4 linked regions of the Homo sapiens genome follow. The protein of the gene in region 2 binds, or shares a complex with, the protein of the main gene of each other region. Each region holds a gene or a part of one and is shown on either strand. Other genes may lie near its edges. The genes, in order: COA1, SMIM20, TIMM21 and CMC1.

Region 1 (7,041 bases), on a different chromosome or scaffold from region 2:
AAATATAAAGGATTATCCACAACTAACAGTATTACAGGTAATCACTGTCGAGTTCTAAATTTCCTTTTCTATTAGAACATAACTTTCCCCACACACCGAATCTGTACTCAGGTGTGCATTTATCCCTAGATTCAGTCTGAGGAGTTGAAAAGTGACAAAGGGATGGATGGCTTCCTGACTACTATGAAAATGTCCCCTGACCCACATATTTCAATATAGTATTAAGCCTTGTTTTCATTACCTGAAATGTATGTTTGCTTACAAACAGGTTTCCTTGAATCTATTCTCCCCACCTCCTCCAATCAAGGAGCAAAGAGAACACCAGAGAAGCTGGAGCACAGTGAACAAGGGGAAACTGGCATGAGATGAGACTATAACAGAAAGAAGAGAGGCCACATCACAGAACAGGGAGGAGGGAGGAATGTTGTGGGTCAAGTTAAATATTTGGGGTTTATTCTACGTAAAATAAAAAGTAAAAGGCCAGGCATGGTGGCTCACACCTGTAATCCCAGCACTTTGGGAGGCCAAGGTGGGCGGGTCACTTGAGGTCAGGAGTTCAAGACCAGCCTGGCCAACATGGTGAAACCCCATCTCTACTAAAATCATAAAAATTAGCCAGGCATGGTGGCGGGCACCTGTAATCCCAGCTACTCGGGAGGCTGAGGCAGGAGAATTGCTTGAAACCGGGAGGAAAGATTGCAGTGAGCCAAGATCGCACCACTGCACTCCAGCCTGGGCAACAAAGCAAAACTCTGTCAAAAAAAAAAAGGAAAAAAAGAGTTCCAATGCTCAGTATAATTTTGTGTTTTTATTGTGGGAAGCAGTAATGTTGCATCCCTGCCTTTCCTCTTTATTAAGCGTTTTATCTAAGTATGATGGACTAGAAAGGATAAAATCAACATGGTCCCCTTCCTTTTTCTTTTTTTTTCAGAAACTTACAAACTTTCTCACAAACTTGTTTAAGAATAAAAATATGGGGAGTGACATGATCAGATTTTACATTTTTTAAAAATGGCTGCTGTGTGAAAAATAGGGGTAATAATATATCCTGGCAGATCAATTAGGAAGCAGTATATCTAGGTGAAAAATCATTGTTCTGTGCAACGAGAGAGGTAAAGATGAAGTGGCCATATTTGAAAATATTTAGGAGGTAGAATTTAGAGAACACTGAGAGGTCTTAAAGTGACCCTGGATATTACTCAGGAGCCTCTGGATGAATGGCAGCCCCAGTCCCTAGGGAAGTATATACTGCCAGACATTAAGTTGCTGGAAGTATAAAGAAAAAGAGAATCCATTTTTTGGATGGGTTAGCTTCGAAAACCTATGAGTCACCTAAGTGCAAATGTCTCACAAGCTTCCTCTTCATCATTTCTCACTGAACATCTCCATTAAGGCTTCACAATCAGGATGCTGGCAATTAGAACCTGTATCTTTCTTCCATGGCTGCTCCATTTACTGATCAATGCCACCAACTACCAGAGATGTTATAAAGGGATTCCTACATGTGATAGAGAAGGCTGAAACATAAAACATCTGAAGTCACACTGATAAGCCTCTATTACTCACAGATTCATCCACAACACTGGAGTTATTCCCGCTACAAAGGTTAACCTTAAGGAAAGAGTTAATTCATAATTCTGCAAACACTGAAAACAAATACAAATGTATTAAGGAATACTTTTATCCATAGACTGCTTTACTAGTAACATTACAAGAATAAGATGAATTTTGAAATAGACTTTAAAAAATAATTTCAATAGTTAAATGTCAGTTCTTAATTAACCATCTTGATTTTCTGATGTAAAAAATGTACAGCAATTATCGTCCAGCTGACAAAAAGCCACAATCTTTATTAGTAAATCCTATTATATAGCACAACACTGCCACCTGTTGGAAGAGATAACTAGCCAAATGTTTTTATTCCTAAACACTAAATGCATGAGAAAGTTTATGAATTTCTCAAAAAAAAATGAAGAGACTGTTGACTTTATCCTTTCTAGCCCAACATGCTTAGATTAAATCCCTAATAAAGAGGAAAAGCAAGGATGTAATGTAACTGCTTCCCACAATAAAAACACAAAATGGCATTTACTTTTTGGTTTTGGTTATTTGGGTAAGGGGAAGATTTAACCATGAAGAGATAGCACTAGGGAGTTTTTGAGGTGAGGCAACTATTCTGCATCCTGACTATGGTGTTGGTTATAGAAATCAGTACATGGGTTAAAATTTATAATATAAAAAGTTTATTTTACTGTACGGTAATTTAAAAAAAAAACAAGGTAAGAGAATACAAATACTCAGTACCATGGGAAAAGTCGTAAGTTATAATGTGAAAGTATTCACATAAATTTCAAAGTTTTGCTACTTATAGCTCAAAGGCTTGAAGCCCAAAAAACATTAGAAAGATTCTAATGTAATACTGCATGCTGACATACTTAAATATGGATGTAGAAGTGTTTCTAAAGACTACCATTGCACACCAGAAGTCAATCTTTGCCCCTAGCACAGAACATTTCAATGAGAGGAACAATCTATAACCAAAAGTTAGGACATTCACCGTTGATTCTGGTAACTTTTTTTTTTTTTTTTTGAGACAGGGTCTCACTCTGTCACTCAGGCTGGAGTGCAGTGGCGCCACTGCAACTCACTACAGCCTCGACCTCCCAGACTCAGGTGATCTTCCCACCTCAGCCTCCTGAGCAGCTGGAACCAAAGGTGTGCACCACCATGCCCAGCTAGTTCTTTTGTATTTTTAGTAGAGAGATGGGGTTTCGCCACTTTGCCCAAGCTGGTCTCAAACTCCTGGACTCAAGTGATCTGCCCACCTTGGCCCCCCAAAGTGCTGGGATTACAGGCATGAGCCACCACGCCTGGCTAGGAAATGCTTTTCCCTACGACAAAACGAGAGTCTCGTTCTATCGCCCAGGCTAGAGTGCAATGGCACAATCTCAGCTCCCTGCAACCTCTGCCTCCCAGGTTCAAGAGATTCTTGTGCCTCGTACCAGCTGCGAGTAGCTAGGACTACAGGCACATGCCATCACGCCCAGCTAATTTTTGTATTTTTAGTAGAGACGGGGTTTCACCATGTTGGCCAGGCTGGTCTGGAACTCCTGATCTCAAGTGATCCGACTGCCTTGGCCTCCCAAAGTGCTGGGATTACAGGCATGAGCCACCACGCCCAGCTAGTACATTCTTTATGTGATTGCATTTCATCTCCCTCAAAAAGCTGGTGCATAAACAGGGAAAGTTGGGTGCTTGGCATCTATGTAATCTTGGTATTTGCTAGATCACTTATGAATGCAAGTGACATCAAAGTTCCACGAGATCTGGAACATCTAAGTCCATCTGGGGACCTTTCCAGTACATTTGCAAATGCCAAATGTCTTAAGGCACCAAGAGCCCACAAGATAAAAGATCACCAGAGTCCAAATGACAGAGACCCAAACTAAGAGCAAAAGTCACATTAAGATACCAGTTCCTCCCATCTCTCCTGATAATATACTTGCTGTTAATAAAATGATATGGGTTGTAAAGTAATAATGAAATATTAAACTGAGACCTTATGAAAGCTGTTGCAATGGGAGGGAGAGGTTGGTAGAAAGGGTGTAACACATATAATCCTCTACCCTTTATCCCTTAGGGCTGCCCTTAAGCCATCCTGTTCCCAGGATCTGGCAGCTACATGCAATCTTAGTTTTCTAAGTTTTGGTTGAGCCACACTGTTGTCTGTTTTTCTACATTTTCCCAGTGATCCCTGGGAGGTCACAGCTATTCAAATGGATTGCAGTACCCACAATAATTTGCAGTTCCAACAACAGGAGAATAGTTGAAAAAAGAATGATACAGTCGTAAAAGAGAATAATGCTGGTCATCTCCTAATCTTCAACTAATGACATGGTTATATTTGCATTGAGGGAGGTAAACTTGCCTGTCAGAAGCAGCAATAGTCACAGCACACCAGGGTAATTGCCAAAGCATCCAAATGGAGCAGTAGTATGATACCGGAATAATTCACAGACTTTTGGAACTATACAAGTTTGCAAACTCACCTCCATTTTAGAGTCTGTCATGATGGGTAATTTCCCCAAAAAGACTAAAAACACAGAAAGCATTAAGAAAAAAAAAAGGCCAGGCAAGGTGGCTCACACCTGTAATCCCAGCACTTTGGGAGGCTGAGGTGGGCGGATCGCTTGAGCTCAGGAGTTTGAGCCCAGCCTGGGCAACATGGCAAAATCCCATCTCAACAAAAAATATAAAAATTAGCCCGGCGTGGTGGCATGTGCCTGTAGTCCCAACTACTTGAGGGGCTAAAGCAGGAGGATCACTTGAGCCCATGAGGTCAAGGCTGCACTGAGCCATGTTCATGGCACTGCACTCCAGCCTGGGTGACAAAGTGAGACCCTGTCTCAAAAAACAAAAACCAAAAAATCTTGGATCATAGAGATGTTTACAATTTGGAAAACTATCCATGATAAACTTTTTATTTAGTCTGAATTGCAATAATTTTAAAACTCAAAGATCTCCAAGTCCTAATACAAAAACACCTACACCCCTTCAAGTAGGAAATAGTCCTTTGGAAAGGTAAACGTGATAATCCATGCCTAAATTACACAATTCCTTTAAATCTCATCTTTTATGCAAATAACAAAAACACTAAAGCATACGGGCAGTTCCTCAAAAAAATCAACAGAATTACCCTACAATCCAGCAATTCCACTTCTGGATACGTATACCTAAAAGAACTGAAAGCACAGCCAGGCGCGGTGGCTCACACCTGTTATCCCAGCACTTTGGGACACTGAGGTGGGCGGATCCCTTGAGGTCAGGAGTTCAAGACCAGCCTGGCCAACATAGCAAAACCCTGTCTCTACTAAAAATATAAAAATTAGCCTGCGTGGTGGTGCACGCCTGTAGTCCCAGCTACTCGAGAGGCTGAGGCAGGAGAATCACTTGAACCAGGAGGCAGAGGTTGCAGTGAGCCAAGATCACACCACTGCACTCCAGCCTGGGAGACAGAGCAAGACTCCATCTCAAAGAAAAAAAAAAAAAGAATTGAAAGCAGGAACTCAGACATTTGTATACCAATGTTCACAGCAGCACTATTCACAATAGCCAAAAGGTGGCAACAACCCAAATATCTATCGACTAATGAATGGATAAACAAAATGTGTTCTATGGAATACAATGTAATACTATTCAGTCTTTAAAAAAATGAAAATTCCAACACATGCCACAACATGAATTAACCTTGAAGACATGCTAAATGAAATAAACCAGACTCAAAAGGACAAATATTTTATGATTCCACTTTTATGAGGACCCTAGAATAGTCACATTCATAGACAGAAAATATAATGGTAGTTGCCAGGGACTGGAAAGAGGGAGGAACGGAGATTTATCATTTAATGGGTGCAGTGTGTGGAGATAAAAGTGCTCTGGGTCGGGCGCAGTGGCGCACGCCTGCAATCCCAGCACTTTGGGAGGCTGAGGTGGGCAGATCACCTGAGGTCGAGAGTTCAAGACCAGCATGACCAACATGGAGAAACCCCGTCTGTACTAAAAATACAAAATTAGCTAGGTGTGGTGGCGCATGCCTGTAATCCCAGCTACTCGGGAGGCTGAGGCAGGAGAATCACTTGAACCCGGGAGGTGGGGGTTGCGGTAAGCTGAGAACACGCCACTGCACTCCAGCCAGGGCAACATGAACGAAACTCCATCTCAAAAAAAAAAAAAGAAAAAGAAAAAAGTGTTCTGGAGATAGATGGTGGTTATGGTTACACAACAATGTTAAAGTACTTAATGGCACTGAACTGTATCTTTACAAATAGTTAAAATGGCCAATTTTATGTTATGTATATTCTATCACAATTTTAAAAAAGAAAAGACAAAACACTGAAACAAGAAACACACAGTTCTAACTGGAATCAAGCCAAGGGGAAAGAATGAAATCTTGGCCATTATATGTAAACAGAGAGATGCAATTTTTTTCTGGAAGCTATTGTATATCACTTTCCTTAGATTCTCAAAATGCTCAGTTTCTAAAAATACTTTTACTACTGGCTGGGCGCAATGGCTCATGCCTATAACCCCAGCACTTTAGGAGGCCGAGGCGGTGGATCACCTGAGGTCAGGAGTTCCAGACCAACCTAGCCAGCATGGTGAAACCCCGTCTCTACTATAAAACAAAAAAATTAGCTGGGCATGGTGGCAGTCACCTGTAATCTCAGCTACTCAGGAGGCTGGGGCAGGAGAATCACTTGAACCCAGGAGGCGGAGGTTGCAGTAAGCCGAGATCGCACCATTGCACTCCAGCCTGGGTACCAAGAGCGAAACTCCATCTCAAAAAATATATATATTATATATATACTATATATATTACTACTACTGCCTTTTAACCAACAAAATTAAAAAAATACAAAACAATGTTAATAGGATTTTATAAAACTACTTTTTCCAACATGCCCCAAACAATACAGAACACAATAGCTACACTCAACCTCTGCATACATTAAATAATCTTCAAATAAATGCCTGCTAGTATGAAAAAAGTACCTACTATTTGGTGACCAACTGTCCAATATGGCTCTCACAAATCTAATGCAGCATATGAAACATGAACAAGAGGATAAAAGAATAACTTCTTGGAGTCTGTTTAAAATAGAGAGTTAAATGAACAAAGTTGAAGCAGATCATGGCACATTTTTCAAGGCAGAGAGACAGGGAGGCAACAATGTCTGAAACAATGAACACTCTTAGGCTAAATATACCACCAGGGACTCAGATGTCACACTAACTGGGAACTACTATGTCAGTTTCTATAACTCCTATAATTAAAGAACAATATCCTAAACTATTAGCCAGAAGGCTTTTAGAGGCAAAGTCCTGACTACACAAAAATGTAAAACAATATAGTAAAAAATATAAAACAAAGTTAACTAAATAGATTGAAAATATCTGCCACATATCTAACAGTCAATGGCTTAAATCCCTACACAAAGAACTCCTAAAAATCAATAAAGACAAAACTCCATACGGAATGGC
Region 2 (7,306 bases):
CTGAACCCTGTGCGATACACCACTGGCAGTCTGCTCCCTGCAAGCATTCAATCTTCACATCCAAGGGAAGAGGGAGAAAGTGCCAGAGAGGAGCCCAACCCAATTCTTCCCCCCAGTGATTGAGATGAAAATATGCACCCTAGGACTGCCGACATATCTGACTTGCATCCTGTCTCCCTACATCCCTGGAGCTCTCTCTCCCTTTACACAAATACGTTCCCCCAAACTCAAACTTCCTTTGCCTTTCCCAAACATTAGCACAGTGATGAAGCCCCAAGTGCTTTCATCCATGCCATGTGTAGGAGGTAATTGTGTTAATTTCTGTATCTATTAGCACTCCTGGTGGCATGCCACTGAAACTGACTCTAACTTAAGTCCAAAGGGACTTTATTGGAAGCATATGGGGTGGCCTGCAGAATATAATGAACGCTCAAGAATCAGACTGCAAGGGGAAACAACCAGGGAAGCTCCAGGATTACAGGCAAGTGGGAGGTATACGATGATCACATCAGAACATTAGCAATGGAAGACAGCTACTCCAACAATGCTGTCCGTCTTTGCGTCACTGTCTTCATCGTCCTTATTTCTGGGAGAAAAAGAACAATTGGACCAAATGATCCAGCTGGATCATCCCCACACCCAGGCAACCAAGCTCCCTGACATCATAAAACATTGTAGATTGGTGGTTAAGAGCAGTATCTGGAACTAGCCAGGCTCGGTTTGAATCCTGGCTCCACCATTTACCAGCCATGTGATCAAGTCATTCTCAGTATGCCCCAGCTTCCCCCTCTGAACATGAGGATACCTATCCATAGGTATTGGTGAGCACAAAGTGAGCAAACCTGTGATACTGACTATAGAGGGCAAGTGTTCTACAAATCTTGATGTTAGCATTGATTAGGAATACACAAGGCCCCTGAAATTGCAGTCTATCCAAAAATGCCAAGATAAGAGGTCATTCTCCAAAAGACATCAGTTTTTATCAAGGCACAGTGGGTGGCCAAAAAACAATTACTATCCTCTACTACATCTTATCCCTCCACCAGACTGTGGACACCATGAGGACAATAGATTCTGCTGTTTTCCTCACCGCTGTGTTCACCAGCACCTGAAAAGCATCTGGCATATTGTGCCTGGCTCAATGAACCATTACTGAATTCACAAATATTGAATGATTCCTTCTGTGTTCCCAATCAACTAGTACAATGTTTTGCATGGGAGTAGGCACACAATAAGTATTTGCTGATTTAATTGATAGGTCAGAGGGAAAAGAAAAACTGGAGGAGTGTGGTTTTCTCAGAAATGGGGAAAACACGGGAATCAAAGAGATGAGCTTGCATTTGGCAGGACTCAGTGGCAAGTAAGTGATAGGTAACTGTTTTCTGGTGTGTTGATGTCAATTACCTATACAAATGATCTAGATGGCCTAATCATTTCTGCTGGTCAACTAACGCCTTTAGATCAGCATCAAGGAGACAAGAGAAACCACGAGTCACTTGGCACATCACCTTGGAGAGGGAGAGGCTCATCTGCCACAATGGACTTGTCCTTGCCTTAGAGGCACTCCCAGTACCTCATCACGATGCTCTGTTCTCCTGGCAACGCTCCTTACTGGCTTGCAGGTGCCCGTGAGCAGGGCTTGGCTGGCCATCCTGCCAAGCTTGCTCATGGAGACAGCAAGATCTCATGGAGGAGCATTTCAGATCAGACATCACAAGAGCTAAGACCTCGGCCAATGCTGTGTGACCTCAGGAGAGTTCTGGTCTCTGGCTGTCAGTGACCAGATCTATAAAATAGAGTAATCCTTGCCTTGCAGCTCAGTAATCCTTGCCTTGCAGCTCCAAGTGGAGTCACATCCTCAGAGATTTTATCTGGAACTCCTTCTGTTGTAAAAGACAGAACCCAACTCAAACTGGCTTCAGAGAAAGGGGGACTCTATTGCTCATGTTACTGAGCAGTCTAGGGGTAGAGCTCTTCTGAGATACAGCTGGCACAAATGCAACACTAGCATCTGATTTCTCCCCACCTCTCAGCCCTCCTTCTGCTGTACTGACTTCCTTTTCAGTTCCTAAATGATGGCCCCCAGTAGCTCGAGTCTCATTCGCTCAAGTTCAAATCCAACTTTCCAGTAGCTGGAATAGACTATGGTTGGCTCAGCTTGGGTCATGTGGCCAGGAGGATGCAACTACATTAGGTGTTCAGGACTGACTCCTAATCAATACTAACCTCAAGACTGAGTCCTGGGTGCCAACCAATCCCTGTGACGAGGAAGCTTGGTCAGGCCCTTATGCTTAACTTTCAGAGCTGGGAAGAAGTAGGATGAGGATGGGGAGTCCTAGGTTATCTCATGGACCAAGAGTGGGAAAAGAGTGGGTCCCAGAAAGATACTTGGGGTACTATTCACAGAAAAAAGGGAAGTGGCCACAGGGCTGATAAAACGACGATGCCCACTACACCTGGGTATTTTCTTTCTTTTTGTTTTTTGTTTCTTTTGAGACGGAGTCTCACTCTGTCACCCAGGCTGGAGTGCAGTGGAGCGATCTCAGCTCACTGCAAGCTCTGCCTCCCAGGTTCCAGCTATTCTCTTGCCTCAGCCTCCCAGGTAGCTGGGACTACAGGCGTGCACCACCACGCCCGGCTAATTTTTTTGTATTTTTAGTAGAGACGGGGTTTCACCATGCTGGCCAGTCTGGTCTCGAACTCCTGACCTCATGATCCACCCACCTCAGCCTCCCAAAGTGCTAGGATTACAGGCGTGAGCCACTGTCCACAGCCCTCACCTGGGTATTTTCTATCGTGTGATATAAAGCTGGTGTCACAGTTCCCTCTGTGCTATGAAGTCTTCTGTCCTCATCCTAACAAGCTCCTGTAAGTGCCCGAGGAGCAGCTGCCACACTGCAGTCATCTGTCTTCCTCCTCTGAATTTCTGTAGCCCGCAGGACCATAACACGTGTCGGCAGCACGCAATGTCGGTCATTAGTTATCTTTTTATGGATATGTTCTATCTCTTCATCTATGCGACAGGATCCTAGAGAGCAGGGGTCACATCTTATTCATCTTTGTGTCCCCTTAGCACTCTGCCTGGTGTTTGGGGCATGGCAGATAGTCCATGAATCTGGGGAGAGATTGAATAACTGATTTACATGCTTCTAGAGCCACAGAGGTAGACAGTAGCTTGATGCAACTACAAGATTACAAAGAAAGAGGAAACCTGTCCTCTCCAAGCTATTTTGAAACGCTTGTAGATCTGTTGTGGCCTAAATAATGCTGCTAGGGTCAAGACAGATATCCTCTTTGCTCCCCAGGCCCAGCTGCTGGCATGATTCCTATTTATAAAGGCATGGAGGCCCAAGGAATCTGTGTCTCAGCTGCCCAGTATCCCTGGGCAGGTCATAGTCAGGCACAGCCCACTTGTAAGGGCAGTGTGGTGCAGAGGGCGGAGGATGGCAACTTGAGGAGGAGGAAACAGGTATCTGTTCTCGGTGGCCCCCACCCAGACAATACGGAAGCGCCCCGTGGCCCCATGGATGGGACCGGATGCTGGCTCTCTGCCTTGGCCAAGGCATCCCAGCACAGGGAACAGGGAGAGAGGATGGGATGGAGGGAGAGAGGATGGGATGGAGAAAGAGAGTAGCTCGGATGCTGAAACAACGTTCCTCCTAGGCTAGTCTTGGTGCAGAAGCCCCGCAGCTCCGGTTTTAGAATCCCCCAGCAGGCCCTCTCGGGCCAGAGATTTGCCCCTTTGTCTCTGATACGTACAAACCTCCCTCAAGAAGGACGAGTGACTCGTCCAAAGCCGCGCAGCGGAGCCGCGGTTCCCTCTCCTGTAAACTAAGCAGACTGATAAAAGGATTAATTGCGCGAGCGACAGAGAGCATCTGGCGCACGGCGGACAGTCGCTAATTAAGAAATTAACGGGGGATGGACGAGAAAGCTGGCTGGTAAAGAAGGCGATGGTAAAGGAGGTCTGGAGGGTGCTGAGGGAGGAACCGGGCCGAAGGAAGGAAAGTAGACAGAACAGGGCCCGCGGGAATCGAGTGCAGCAAAACAGCTCCAACCTCAATCCAACGCCAGCGCCCGGCCCGCACAGCACGGAATCCCGGGGAAGGCGGAGGGCGGGGTCCGAGGCCCCGCCTGTGACCCCACCCCTTTCCTGGCCCCGCCCCCAGCCTTGAGGCCCCGCCTCTGACTCCACCCCTGTCTCTTTCTCCGCTCCGCCCCTCCTCCTCGTCCCTCCCTCAAGGCCCGGAAGCGAAAGCCTCTCCACCTCTTCCGAGCGGGGTCACGGCCCGGCCGTCGGTAACCTGGTTTCCGAGAGTGCCGGGCGGTCGGCGGGTCAGGGCAGCCCGGGGCCTGACGCCATGTCCCGGAACCTGCGCACCGCGCTCATTTTCGGCGGCTTCATCTCCCTGATCGGCGCCGCCTTCTATCCCATCTACTTCCGGCCCCTAATGAGATTGGAGGAGTACAGTGAGTGATCTCTAACCCCTTGCGGTGACCTGACTCCCCAACACACACACCTCCCCTCTGTGAGCTCCACGTGGTGCCGTGGAAAGAACTTGGCTCGAGGGTTAGGGAGAGCCGGGTTCGAATCCTGCCATGTGCAGCTTTGTGACCGTGGACAAGTTGCTCAACCTCTAGGACTCTCAGTATCCTCATCTGTGAATGTTTGTGGCTACGTCATCTATGCTAAAATGCCGAGCCTCCTGTGAGACTCAGGTGATCATGTATATGAAAGCAGTCCTCACATAAGTCGACGCTAAGTACCAGTTCATATTTACAGTTAAAATTCACTGAATGCCTATTACACGTCAGGTTAGGCATATGTTGGATCGTTTCATTTGCACAAGCTCACCTTGAAGTATATATGTAAAACATGCCCATTTTACAAATGAGGGAACTGAGAGGCTCAGAGGTTTTATAACGTTCCCAAGGTCACACAGCAAGTAAGTGACAAGGCAAATATATCCAACCCCAGGCCTCTGTCCAGAGCCTCCTCCAAGCACCCAGGCTGAGAATGGTGACTGGGGGAGCCAGATGGAACCCTGATCCTTCTGAGTGGAAAGGTGCTTTTACTGCACTTCATTTCCACTCCCCAAGATGTTTTTTGAGTGGGACTGTTTCAAACCCAAACTGTTAACCTGGGGTTTGTAGTGTTTTCTCTTCTTTTTCCTCAAATTGTTTTTCCGATTCTGCTTGTTTCCTTCGTTTTAAGCCGATTGCTCACATGGTAATGGTGAAATCCTGGGAGTAATTTTCCTTCTTAATCATTCCAGTCCTATCATTCTAAAAGCCAAACTCTTCTTCCTTGAGACCTATACCTCAGCAAGGATTAGCACTTTGATACATCTGAAACCATCTGTCAGACAGAAAATATTAGGCATTAGAGGCTCATTTTGTTCACCAGGAAACCCGAATCATCTTGAAGATGGAAGAGGGCCAACCCTGTCCCTTGGGAATATTAACGGACACTGAAAGCTTGGCGAATTGAAGGCGAAAGCTCCGTGTAAATGTTCTGCCCATTACAAATGTTGCAGCAGTCGATTTCTGGAGGCAGAGCGTTTTAAGTGCACACTCAGATTTCCTTGTAGCTTCTTTTCATTAGCCAAGACTGAAATGGCCACTGTGTTCTGCCTTCCAGCTTATCTGCATGCACCATGCGTGGGAGTAAGGTGGGCTGTGTGAAGCCCTGCGGGATCTGTTTCCACCATCCTTCTTCAGCGGACGCCTGCCCCAGCGATTATATTGAGGCCACTAGAACTTGGGACAAAGGGTCTGCTTTGCATCCCATTGGAAAAGTCAGTTCTGAAAACTAGAGCTGTGGTTCTCATCTAGGGGTGATTTTGCCCCGCAGGATATTTGGCTCAATCTGGAGACATTTTTGCTTGTCACAACTTGGGATGGGGCGGGGGGGGGGTCGAGTGTTGCTACTGGTTTCTTGTGGATAGATGCCAGGGATACTGCTAAACTTTTTGCAGTGCATACAAGACAGACCCCCATGACAAAGAATTACCCAGCTTAAAATTCGAGTGGTGCCTTGGTTGAGAAACCCTGCTTGAGATGAAATGGTCAAGATGGGGACTTGTACTGTGTATCCCAGCAACAGTCTTTTAGGGATACTCCAGAATCTGTGGTTGTCTGAATGTCTTGAGACAGACAAATCAGGTGATGTTCATCTGTGGGTGAACATTTAGTGAATGTAACTATAATATCTGCATTTTTAACTAGAAGGCAGGCAGTCTGTGCCTTCCCACTTTTCTGGTTCCTTTTTGTTTTTTTTTCTTTTTTTCCGCTGTCACCCAGGCTGGAGTGCAGTGGCCTGATCTCGGCGCACTGCAGTCTCCATCTCCCAGGTTCAAGCAATTCTCCTGCTTCAGCCTCCTGAGTAGCTGGAATTACAGGTACCTGCCACCATGCCCAGCTAATTTTTGTATATTTTAGTAGAGACAGGGTTTCACCATGTTGGCCAGGCTGGTCTCGAACTCCTGACCTTAGGTGATCCACCCGCCTTGGCCTCCCAAAGTGCTGGGATTATAGGTGTGAGCCACCACGCCTGGCCTCTGGTTCCATTTTGATTAATTTGGCCAACTCTTTTCTGGGGATCGTAACTGATTCTTTTTTCTGAGACAGTCTCCCTCTGTCGCCCAGGCTGGAGTGCAGTGGCATGATCTCGGCTCACCGCAACCTCTGCCTCCCAGGTTCAAGTGATTCTTGTGCCTCAGCCTCCCAAGTAGCTGGGAATCCAGGCATGCACCACCAGTCCTGGCTAATTTTTGTATTTTTAGTAGAGACAGCATTCTGCCATGTTGGCCAGGCTGGTCTTAAACACCTCACCTCAAGCGATCCTCCTGCCTCAGCCTCCCAAAGTGCTAGTGTTACAAACTGACTGCTGTAACATTTGTAATGGGCAGAGCGTTTACACAGCTTTCGCCTTCAGTGCCAGCAACTGATTCTTTTAAACAGGTAAATATTGCTGAACAGGTAATATTTGTGGGAAGTTTACTATATGTTTGGCACTCTTCTAAGCACTTCCTATATATTAACCCATTTAGTGTTGATAACAGCCCTTTGTGGCAGCTGCTATATGATCATCATCCCCATTTTATATGTGGACAAACTGAGGTGTGAAACAGTTAAATTACTTACACAAGGACCTACAGCTGATGAGTCACAGATCTGGGACTTGAATTAATATCCTTAATCCCTAAACCAAGACAGCATACTGCTTGTCTAAGGGGGCAAGAAAAGGCAATGGGGGAGATGAGTGTCTGCATAGCCTACTAGATGAATGACCCTCATCTAAGTT
Region 3 (2,550 bases), on a different chromosome or scaffold from region 2:
GAAATCTAACAGATGGAACACATGAGTGGTACTATATAAAATAAATAGTAAGTGTAACCCTGAGTAGAAATCTATGAATTAGGAATTGGGGAACTGTCTCTGGATGAGAATAAGAGAAACAGAAGTAATATTGTAATGGCTTACCAAATGGAAATAAATGGATAAAGTATTACTAGCATTGATCAACAATAGTTATGAAGGGAGCTTGCAGGGTAGTTAGGCTGGAAATCTCACGGGGCTAAAAGCAGAACTTCTGATAAACTCTTGCCTTGCATATAATTTCTTCATTAAGGAGGAAGAGCAAACAGTGACAGGAGAGTCTGCTCTAGAGTTAGTTGTGAAAAGAGTTCACTGATCAGGTGTGGAGGAATGACAGAGGCCTTGGAGGAAAATGACCAGAGCATTTGCAAATTCACAAATATGACGGAAGGGGATACCAGGCAGAGTCAGATAAGTGCCCTAGAATTCAGAGAAAAAGTGGGAGTAAGCCCATGGACAGAGACACCACAATCAAAGTGGATTAAAGAGGGTCTTAAAACACAGAAATTTTAACATTTAGTAGGGTACATCAGAGGGAATGAAAACAGAGATCTAGAGAGTTACACATCACATTTTCCTGTGGCTATACAGAAGAATCTCTTATTGGTACAGAGTTTTTCCTTTTGAAAAAGTAATTTAGTTTTATTTCTAATTATAAAAGCTCAGATCTGTTTTTTGTTTTTTTTTTTTGAGACGAAGTCACACTCCGTCACTCATGCTGGAGTGCAGTGACATGATCTTGGCTCACTGCAACCTCTGCCTCCTGGGTTCAAGCGCTTCTCCTGTCTCCTGAGTAGATGAGATTACAGGAGTGTGTCAACGTGCCTGGTTAATTTTTTTTTTTTTGAATTTTTAGTAGATAGGGTTTCACCATGTTGGCCAGGCTGGTCTTGAACTCCTGACCTCCAGTGATTGACCTGCCTCAGCCTCCCAAAGTGCTGGGATTATAGGCATGAGCCACCTCGCCTGGCCAAAAGCTCAGATCTTAAAGGGGCATGAGCATATTGTAAAATGGCAGGTGCATAAAAATGAATACAGAAAAAGCAAACAGTCTTAAGTCAAATGACAGGGCCATGGAGGGTGGCTAAATCCCCACCTGAGCTCAGATGCCGGGCTTCTTCAGCAAGCTACAGTTTGAGCAGGTTGTTTGAAGAGCAGGGCTGCTTTTTTGAGTTTAGGATAGCAAGTGGAACTTCTCAGCCTGTTAAATGTTGACATTTCAGTGAATCCTGAAACTGAACATTCTATAGCAAAGGAAAAAACGATTAGGAGAGAAAGCCTAAGTTAAGGCCTCATTCAGTCAAAGTGTGTTACGTCAGGGAGACGAGTGTCTGTTATATTTTCTATACTCCTTAAATGTTGGAAATTTTTATAATTAAAAACATCTAAAACAAGCAGTCAAACCAAGAAACTAACTAAATTAAGCAGGGAGATAAAGTAAAAAGGGGAGATAGATTGCCTGGAGGTCTCTCTATCCTGAATATCCCAAAATTTCAAGAACACATCAGAAATTCCTCTACAGACAGTTCTCGGGGAGAAGGAACAAACACATCAGAGGGGATACCTCACACTGAAGCCACCGCAGATAAACATGGTTCTAGACCCCTCCCAATGCACATAGCACTTACATAGATATGGAATCAGGATCTTGTAAGTGAAGGTCACTTTTTTCCAAATCCCCAGCAAATATTTCAAATAAAATAGAATTTCCTTTTTTTTTTTTTTTTTCTTTAAGGGGCCTCACACACGTATTTGAATGTCTCTCATTCACTCCCATGTTCTTTTGGCAGTCAGAAGTATCAGTGCAAGTAAGTTCTAAAGGGGATGAGGGCACTTCATGGCTGCCTTCTATGGTCCAGGCTTGTACCTCTCATCACACTGCCATCCTAACAACCCACACAACAGGGACACTTGACCACGCACCTGCTAGAAAAGGTGGGGTGGGTGCCCAGGTCTACCCAACTTGGGAGTGTGTACTTTTCCCGCTATGTACTAGGCCCTTAATTCATGAAGCGCGAAATATGAGACAGATTCCTAAAACTCACACAATTTTGAAGAATGTATTTACCATCTGGTTCCCTATGGCCCTCAACCATTTTCACATGCTTATCTCAAGTCAGATTCCAAAGTATGCGGAGGGCAGCTGCTAATGACATATTTGTTAGTTTTAATTTTATTCTGCAGACATTATGCAGTTCTATAATATAAAATGAATACAATACTAAAATCTATTTCCTTTATTTACATGGTGTAACATTTCCAATAACAAACATTTCTAATCATGAAAGATGGTGTTAAAGCAGAAATATTGTCATGATTGAGTCAATGGGAGAACATAAAATATGCTGTATTTCATAATTTTTCCGTAAGAAAATGTCTAGTTTGTTTAAATGCAACAAATACTGTATTAGATTCACTTTATAAGCCATACACTCCTTCTTGTCTTTCTTTTGAACACATTCTGGAAGGCAGCTGTGAAGAACGGAGTAGCGAGTCCACGCCATTCAACAT
Region 4 (7,041 bases), on a different chromosome or scaffold from region 2:
TGGCACACGCCTGTAGTCCCAGCTACTCAGGAGGCTGAGGAATGAGAATTTGAGCCTGGAAGGCAGCGGTTGCAGTGAGCCGAGGTTGCGCCACTGCACTCCAGCTTGGGCCACAGAGTGAGACTTCGTCTCAAAAAAAAAAAAAAGAGGAAATAGGGATAATTCCAGTTTTTGTACGTCAGCAGCTGGGTGGAAGGTCATGGTCAAATCTAACAATGTGATTATTGGAAACTTCATCAAAGGAAGGAATGGAAGCAATGGAGAGTAAAAAAGTGGAGTCAGCAAGTAGGAAGGTTTTTTTTTTTTTCCCTAAATTGTTTTGTCTGTTTAAATTCCAGAATAAAATGTATGGAAGCCAGTTTTTTTTTTTTTTTAATTTCGTGTTTATTTGGTTCATACGTTGAAGCTTAGTTTCACATTTTGATGTTTTACTGCTTTGTACAGCCCACGATGGTATTTGCCCATATTGAGTAAGTGAATAATAGATACACCAATTGAGGTTCATTTAGCAAAATCTGTTTTCCTATTGGTTTATTTTGTATTTTCTGTGATCTTTATAGAAGCTTGATTTTCATTTGGCAGCAACTTTTAATTAACTTTGTAGGGTCTCTGTTTTCCTCAAGAAACTGTGAACCCAGCGAAAAAATGCAGGTTACATGCTTATACATAGTTTTATTTACATTATTTTCCTTTTTTTTGTTAATGTAGCAGTAATAACAGCAATCTTTGCTTATTGCCATGTTCCGGACAAATTTTCAGACATGATTATATTCTCAGATGATGGCCCATAGGAACCTGCACCTGATAAATTTGATTTTTCACTTTCTCTATCAACTAAAGTAATTCCTTTCTCCCTTCTTTGACCTTTCCCCTTTTTAGTTAGGTTCTCTTCCCTCTGTCAACATAGATTCATTCTCTACTTATGCAGAATGGGGCATGGCAGCCTAAGGGAAGTTTCCTTAATCAGGTGTGTGTGTGTCCCTGTGTCCTTCTATTGCTGTTTTTTTCCGGGAACTTAATAAAAGGAGGAAGATGGGACAGAGATAGGGCTTAGGGGGTGGAAAGTGGGTTCAAGAATTTCATGACATTCCATGAGAAGGTGTTTAAGGTATATGTGTCTTGGGAAGATTTAATTATGGATGTTCTTGGAACATTTGGGTTGCAGTACTCCAAGTTGGGGTTCTTTCAGTGGTTCCTGTGGGAATGTAGGTAAATTACCTTTAGGGGTACAGGAACAGTACTAGCCCTTACATTTACTAGAAAATTTTAAGTTAGACATGTAAACAAACTTGAAGAATCTTTTTTGAGCATTGTATGTTTAATATGTAAAAGGTTGTGGAGTTGATTAGAAAAATTTTTTATTTTTTTTAGTGATGGGGTTTCACCATGTCGCTTAGGCTGCACTTGAACTCCTTGCTCAGGAGCACTTGAACTCCTGGGCTCAAGTAATCTGCCCACCTCGGCCTCCCAAAGTGCTGGGATTATAGGCATAAGCCACCCTGCCTGGCCTATAAGAAAAATTTTGATTTTATTATTGCCGCCATATCTCTAGAGTATCTTCTTAGACATAAATTACGTTGGTGGCTCAGAACAAAAAAAAAAAGACCTAACATCTACATTTTGTATATTTATAAATTAAAAGCATATTTGCCATAGAAAATACATTATTTTTGTCTCATCGGATTAACAACTCTCTGATGGTTGCTCTGTGAAATTTGAAAAACACAGGCTTAAGCAAAGACAATAAGAAAGAAGAATTGAGATCAAAGAGGAGTATGTGCCATGGCAGTGGGTTGGGGGTTGGGATTTCAGTTTTGAAGCATGAAATGATCTGTAAACCATTTCAAGGATTTTGAATTTTATACTAAGAACAATGGGAAGACACTGCAAGTTTTTAGGTAACGGAGTGACAAACAGAACTCTCCTTATTTTGTGTTGATCTGACTTTTGTTTAGATCAAGAATAACCTTGATCTCAGCCACATACTGCATACATGATGTGTCTTTCCAGAGTATCCCATCTGGAGGTACATGGGTATCTGTCTCTCGTAGGTGATGTTAATTTTGATTACCCACTCAAGGTTTTGCCCTGTTTTGTTGCCGTATTTTCTCTGTTTTGCAATTAGTAACTAATCTGTGGGAAGGTTAAGACCTTGTAAATATTTGCTTCTCATCAAATATTTCTCTTTGATTTGGGGTCCATTGATTTTTTTTTTTTTTTTTTTTACCTGATTCAGTCTTTCCCATAATGGTTGCAAAATAATGATTTTCTACCTCCAGCACACTCCCTTCACATTTACTAGATGGTTGTTGACATTTTACTGTAAGCAAGAGATTGCTTTGTTTCATTTTCATTGATTTATGAATTTATTATTGGTATTTTTGGTAAGGACTCATGAACTGCTGTATTTTCAATCGTTTGTACTCTGTTAATGTACATAAGTATTTTTTGTGTTCAAATTTCCCCAGATTTGGCCAGAGTTCCCTTTAAGCTAGCTTCTGGATCTTTGTCATATACTCTCACCATTTTTTTGAGCATTTCCTTTTTATTCCCTCACACAAGGTATCACTGCTTCATCTTGTACCTACCCTGGCCAATCCATACAATTAGTTATTTCTCTGAGAAGCCCTGGTTCCTTTTATTTGGGCACAGTATTAGAGAGTAAGAGCTGGTCACTAGAACTGCATGTAATTTGGGTGGTTTATTAATAGATTGCCTTTAGGAAAAGAAAAAAAAAACCCTTAAGAGAGTAAGGAAAATAGGAGACGGGAGGGGAAAAATCTGAGCAAGGATGTGGTTTCAGGTCTTAACCTAATCAGCTCTGGTGTACCACATGGTACATACAGTTTATTGTGCCTTGGAGGCAAGGGAGCTGGGCTTTCATGCCCTTTTTCAGTCATTGGTTACTGTAGTAGTTGGGAGAGGGACAGCAGCAAGGAAAACAGCAAAGGGCTACCATGGCCAGGGGCAGTCCTGAGAAGGTTGCAGATGTGAATGCTCCAACATTCTCTGCTGCAGGAGGGATACCAGCTCTATCCTAAAAATAATTTATCTGAATCTGTTAGGAATCTTAGTTGGATAGTAAGAGTTTTGATAGTAGTGAGAGTTCAGATAGTGACAGGTCAGATAGGAATGGGTACTTGCACACATGTATACATACACACAGGTGTGTGTACTGCATCCAGTAAAGTGTCACAGGTTGTGGTTAACAAGTTTGAATAACACTGGCTTAAGATATACCTAAGGTAGGCTAAGCTGTACTTTTTTTTTTGTCTTCTAGGCCATCGTACATGCTGTTCTCTCTAGAATTTCTCCCATCTTCCCTATCCCCAGGTCTACTGAATTCTTGTTCATTTTTCACAACTCAATTTAAAATCAGTTTCTTAGGAGAGTTTTCCTGATTGCCACCACCTCCAGTTAAACATTTTTTTTTAAGGTTTAGGATTAAAAACTCCACCAAAATATCATATAACCTATGTATAGAGTTGTTTTCCTTTTAGATATAAAATCCTTTTCTTTGACGAATAAAAGGAAACCTTTTATTCAGATATGATGCGCCTATATGTAACAAATAATTGGAGAAATAAAGAAAAACATAATTTGAAGAATGGGAATGTTCTACCTGTGTAATAAATAGTAAATATTTTTCATATGAATCCACCTCTTTAAATTCATTAGAGACCAGATAAAAGGATAGGTCAGTTAATTTCACCTAGATTATAGAAGATTGGCCACCTCCTCCCAGGGAGGTAGTGTACTGTTGTGGAATCAACACCGAATTTGGGAGTTAGTAAGACTGACTTATTGTCTCAGACTTTGTCATTAACCTGTCCTTAATGACATAATATGAGGTTTGAGGATGAGAAGTAGGGAAAGAGATGTATCAGATAATTGCTAAGGTTGCTTCAAGCCTTGAACTTTTATGATTCTAAATATTAATACTTGTCATAGGTCTCAAGGGGTTCTTGACTCCACACAGAAATAAATTCAAGTTTGTGTCTTGTTGCCTGGATTAGTATCTTTTTTAATTTTTTGTTTGGGGTGTTAAAATCATATGTGTAAAATTCTGTAGATGTCAAAAATATGAGAAGTATTACCTTGTACTTGATATAAGTGGACCAAACAAAATTGTGCCCAAATAAAACTATTGATACCCAAGTTAACATTCTCCCCGACAATCCTCTGTTCTATTTTTGCATTTTTTCTTTTTTTTTGAGACAGAGTCTCGCTCTGTTGCCCAGGCTGGAGTGCAGTGGCGTGATCTCAGCTCACTGCAAGCTCCGCTTCCTGGGTTTGTGCCATTCTTCTGCCTCAGTCTCCTAAGTAGCTGGGACTACAGGCGCCCACCACCATGTCCGGCTAATTTTTTTGTATTTTTAGTAGAGATGGGGTTTCACTGTGTTAGCCAGGATGGTCTCGATCTCCTGACCTTGTGATCTGCCTGCCTCAGCCTCCCAAAGTGCTGGGATTACAGGCGTGAGCCACTGCGCCCAGCCTATTTTTGCATTTTTAAGTAAGAAGATTGAAGGAAAAAATTGCTAAGAATGTGGTGTTTACCATCCTGCATTGTGTTTTGCTAAAGAACTGTTACTGGGAGATTCTTACAGATCAAAAGATATGTTAATTACCTAAACATGACTAATTGGAATGTAGAGTATCACATGTTTATGCTGCAGAGTAAGGAACCTTGCTTGACTGATTCATTATTGTATACACAATCCCTGGTGTGGTGATTGGTACATAATAGGTACATACGTATTTGTTTACAGTGTATCTGTAACTATCAAATACTAAAACTCTTTTAAATATACGTGTCATTTGTTAAACAGTTAAAACAATTTTATTGCATATTTACCATATGCTAGGAGTTAGAGGGAATTACAAAGATGAGTTAGACGTGGTCTCTGACCTCATTAAAGTTAACTTTTACTTGCAGTAGTTCTCAGTCTAGCTGCATATTATAATTATTTGGGGAGCCTTAAAAAATATCAATGCCTGGCTTTTACCCCAGCATTTCTGATTTAACTGGTCTGGGGTGGGGCCCAAGCATTAAGAATTTTGTACAGCCCTCTCAGGTGGTTCTTGGGTACAGCCAGGGTTGAGAGCTTCTGGTACCAAAATCTGTCTTAGTCTACTCAGGCTGCCATAACAAAATCCCATAGACTGACTTGAGTGACCCACACAACATAGACTGGGTGGCTTAAAAAATGTACATTAATTTTTTTTACTATTCTGGAGGCTAGGAAGTTCAAGACCAAGATTCAAGGAGATCTGGTTGCTGACAAGGACTCTCTTCCTGACTTGCAGATGGCTGCCTTCTCCCTGTGTGTTTACATGGCAGTGAGCGGGGAGGGATGGGGGAAGAGGAGGTTGAGGGAGGAGGAGGAGAGAACGAGAAGGAGAGAGAGCCCTCTGCTTCTTATGAGGCCACTAATCCTATCGAATTAAGGCCTCACCTTTATGACCGCATTTGACCTTAATTACCTCCCAAAAGCACTGTCTCCACATACAGTCACATTGAGGGTTAGGGATTCAACATATGAATTTGGAGAATGGTAAACACAATTCAACTCATGCCAACCACTGATCTAGCAGGAGAAGATTGGATATATAGTGTGATGTGATGTGTTTAAGTCCAGGTGTGATTATAGCAACAGAACGAGTGCAGGCAAAATCTTGGGGTTAGAGGAAGGAGAAATCACTTTTTAGTGCTGGAGGTCAGGAAGAACTTTGGGATGGAGAAATGTTGAATTGAGTTTTAAATAAGTAAACTTTGATAACAAAAAATAAGAGGTTGAAGATGGAAAATAAAGACTGAGATTGAACTAGAGTTTGGCTTTACCTGTTACTTGCCGGGTAATGCTGCAAGATTGCTTTGAGCTTTCTGAGTCTTAATTTCTTTGTATCTGCTTCTAAATGAGATGATGTTTGTAAACCAGTTCCATCCACCACCCTTTTCTTCTTTCTGTAAATATTTATCGTGTTGCTTCTGTGTACTATATAACTATAAGCCGATTTTTCAGGTAAGAAGGGTAACATAACCACTAGGTTGGCAAAATGAAGGTTTACATTGTAGGAAATTTAAGTTGGAATTGAGCTGCTGGTGGGACTTAGAAACCACCAGTAGATAGTTGAAAATGTGGAAAGTTGGAGATGGAGATGAGCACTGAGAACTCAGTATCATAAACACTATCTTTAAAGGTGGAACCTTGTGGGATTGCCCCAGGAGGATTAAGTACAGATATTACCTTGGAAGTGTGTATAGTTCTAGTATTGTTACCATTGTTCAGGATATTTTTGAAACTCCTTTAAGATTTCCCTTTGGATTCTTCAGTACACTCGTCTTAATATCCTCATTTTGGCAAATCTTTGTTCTGAAAGTTAATTTGAATTTCAGCCAAGGTTTAACCAGAGACAGTCTGGTGAAGGTGATAGACGATCATCCTGGGAAATGCTGCCTCTTCCCTTGTCTCAGTTTGTTTTATGTTGCTATAAATGAATACCTTAGGATGAGTAATTTATAAAGAAAGAAGTGTATTTAGCTCACAGTTCTGCAAGCTATACAGGAAGCATGGCATCTGCTTGGCTTCTGATGAGAACATTTATGCTGTGTCAGAACATGGCAGAGAAGATCAAAGGGGAAGCGGGCATGTGTGAAGAGGGACCAAACGTGAGAGGTGTCCTGACTTTTACAACAATCCAGTCTCTTGGGAACTAGTCATTTTCTCTGAGAACCAGCCCACTCTGAAGAACTAGTCCACTCCAGCAAGAGCAGGAATTCATTACTGCTAGAAGGGCACAAAGCTGTTCATGAGACATCTGCCCTCGTGTCCCAAACACATCCCATTAGGGACCACCTCCTTACACTGCCACACTGGGGATCAGATTTCAACATGAGATTTGGTGGGGACAAACCATATCCAAACCATATTGCTCCCACCCCAAAAAAGTTATATTATGGAACTGGTTTTCATGTTTACTTCAGATTAGCTCTGAAGCCATACCAAGAAAGATGATGTGATTTGAGCAAAGGCTGAGTCT

Evidence for each region.
Region 1: SMIM20 (region 2) and COA1 share a complex: the UniProt entries of both Homo sapiens proteins name them as parts of the MITRAC (mitochondrial translation regulation assembly intermediate of cytochrome c oxidase complex) complex.
Region 3: SMIM20 (region 2) and TIMM21 share a complex: the UniProt entries of both Homo sapiens proteins name them as parts of the MITRAC (mitochondrial translation regulation assembly intermediate of cytochrome c oxidase complex) complex.
Region 4: SMIM20 (region 2) and CMC1 share a complex: the UniProt entries of both Homo sapiens proteins name them as parts of the MITRAC (mitochondrial translation regulation assembly intermediate of cytochrome c oxidase complex) complex.

What each region holds. Positions count from the first base shown.
Region 1 is NC_000007.14:43,719,519-43,726,559, forward strand, and holds part of COA1 (cytochrome c oxidase assembly factor 1 homolog), read right to left. Parts: intron 1-7,041. UniProt on the Homo sapiens protein: Component of the MITRAC (mitochondrial translation regulation assembly intermediate of cytochrome c oxidase complex) complex, that regulates cytochrome c oxidase assembly.
Region 2 is NC_000004.12:25,909,953-25,917,258, forward strand, and holds the start of SMIM20 (small integral membrane protein 20), read left to right. Parts: upstream 1-4,267; 5' UTR 4,268-4,361; coding exon 4,362-4,470; intron 4,471-7,306.
Region 3 is NC_000018.10:74,158,498-74,161,047, reverse strand, and holds the end of TIMM21 (mitochondrial import inner membrane translocase subunit Tim21 precursor), read right to left. Parts: 3' UTR 517-2,550; downstream 1-516. UniProt on the Homo sapiens protein: Participates in the translocation of transit peptide-containing proteins across the mitochondrial inner membrane.
Region 4 is NC_000003.12:28,244,594-28,251,634, forward strand, and holds part of CMC1 (COX assembly mitochondrial protein homolog), read left to right. Parts: intron 1-7,041. UniProt on the Homo sapiens protein: Component of the MITRAC (mitochondrial translation regulation assembly intermediate of cytochrome c oxidase complex) complex, that regulates cytochrome c oxidase assembly.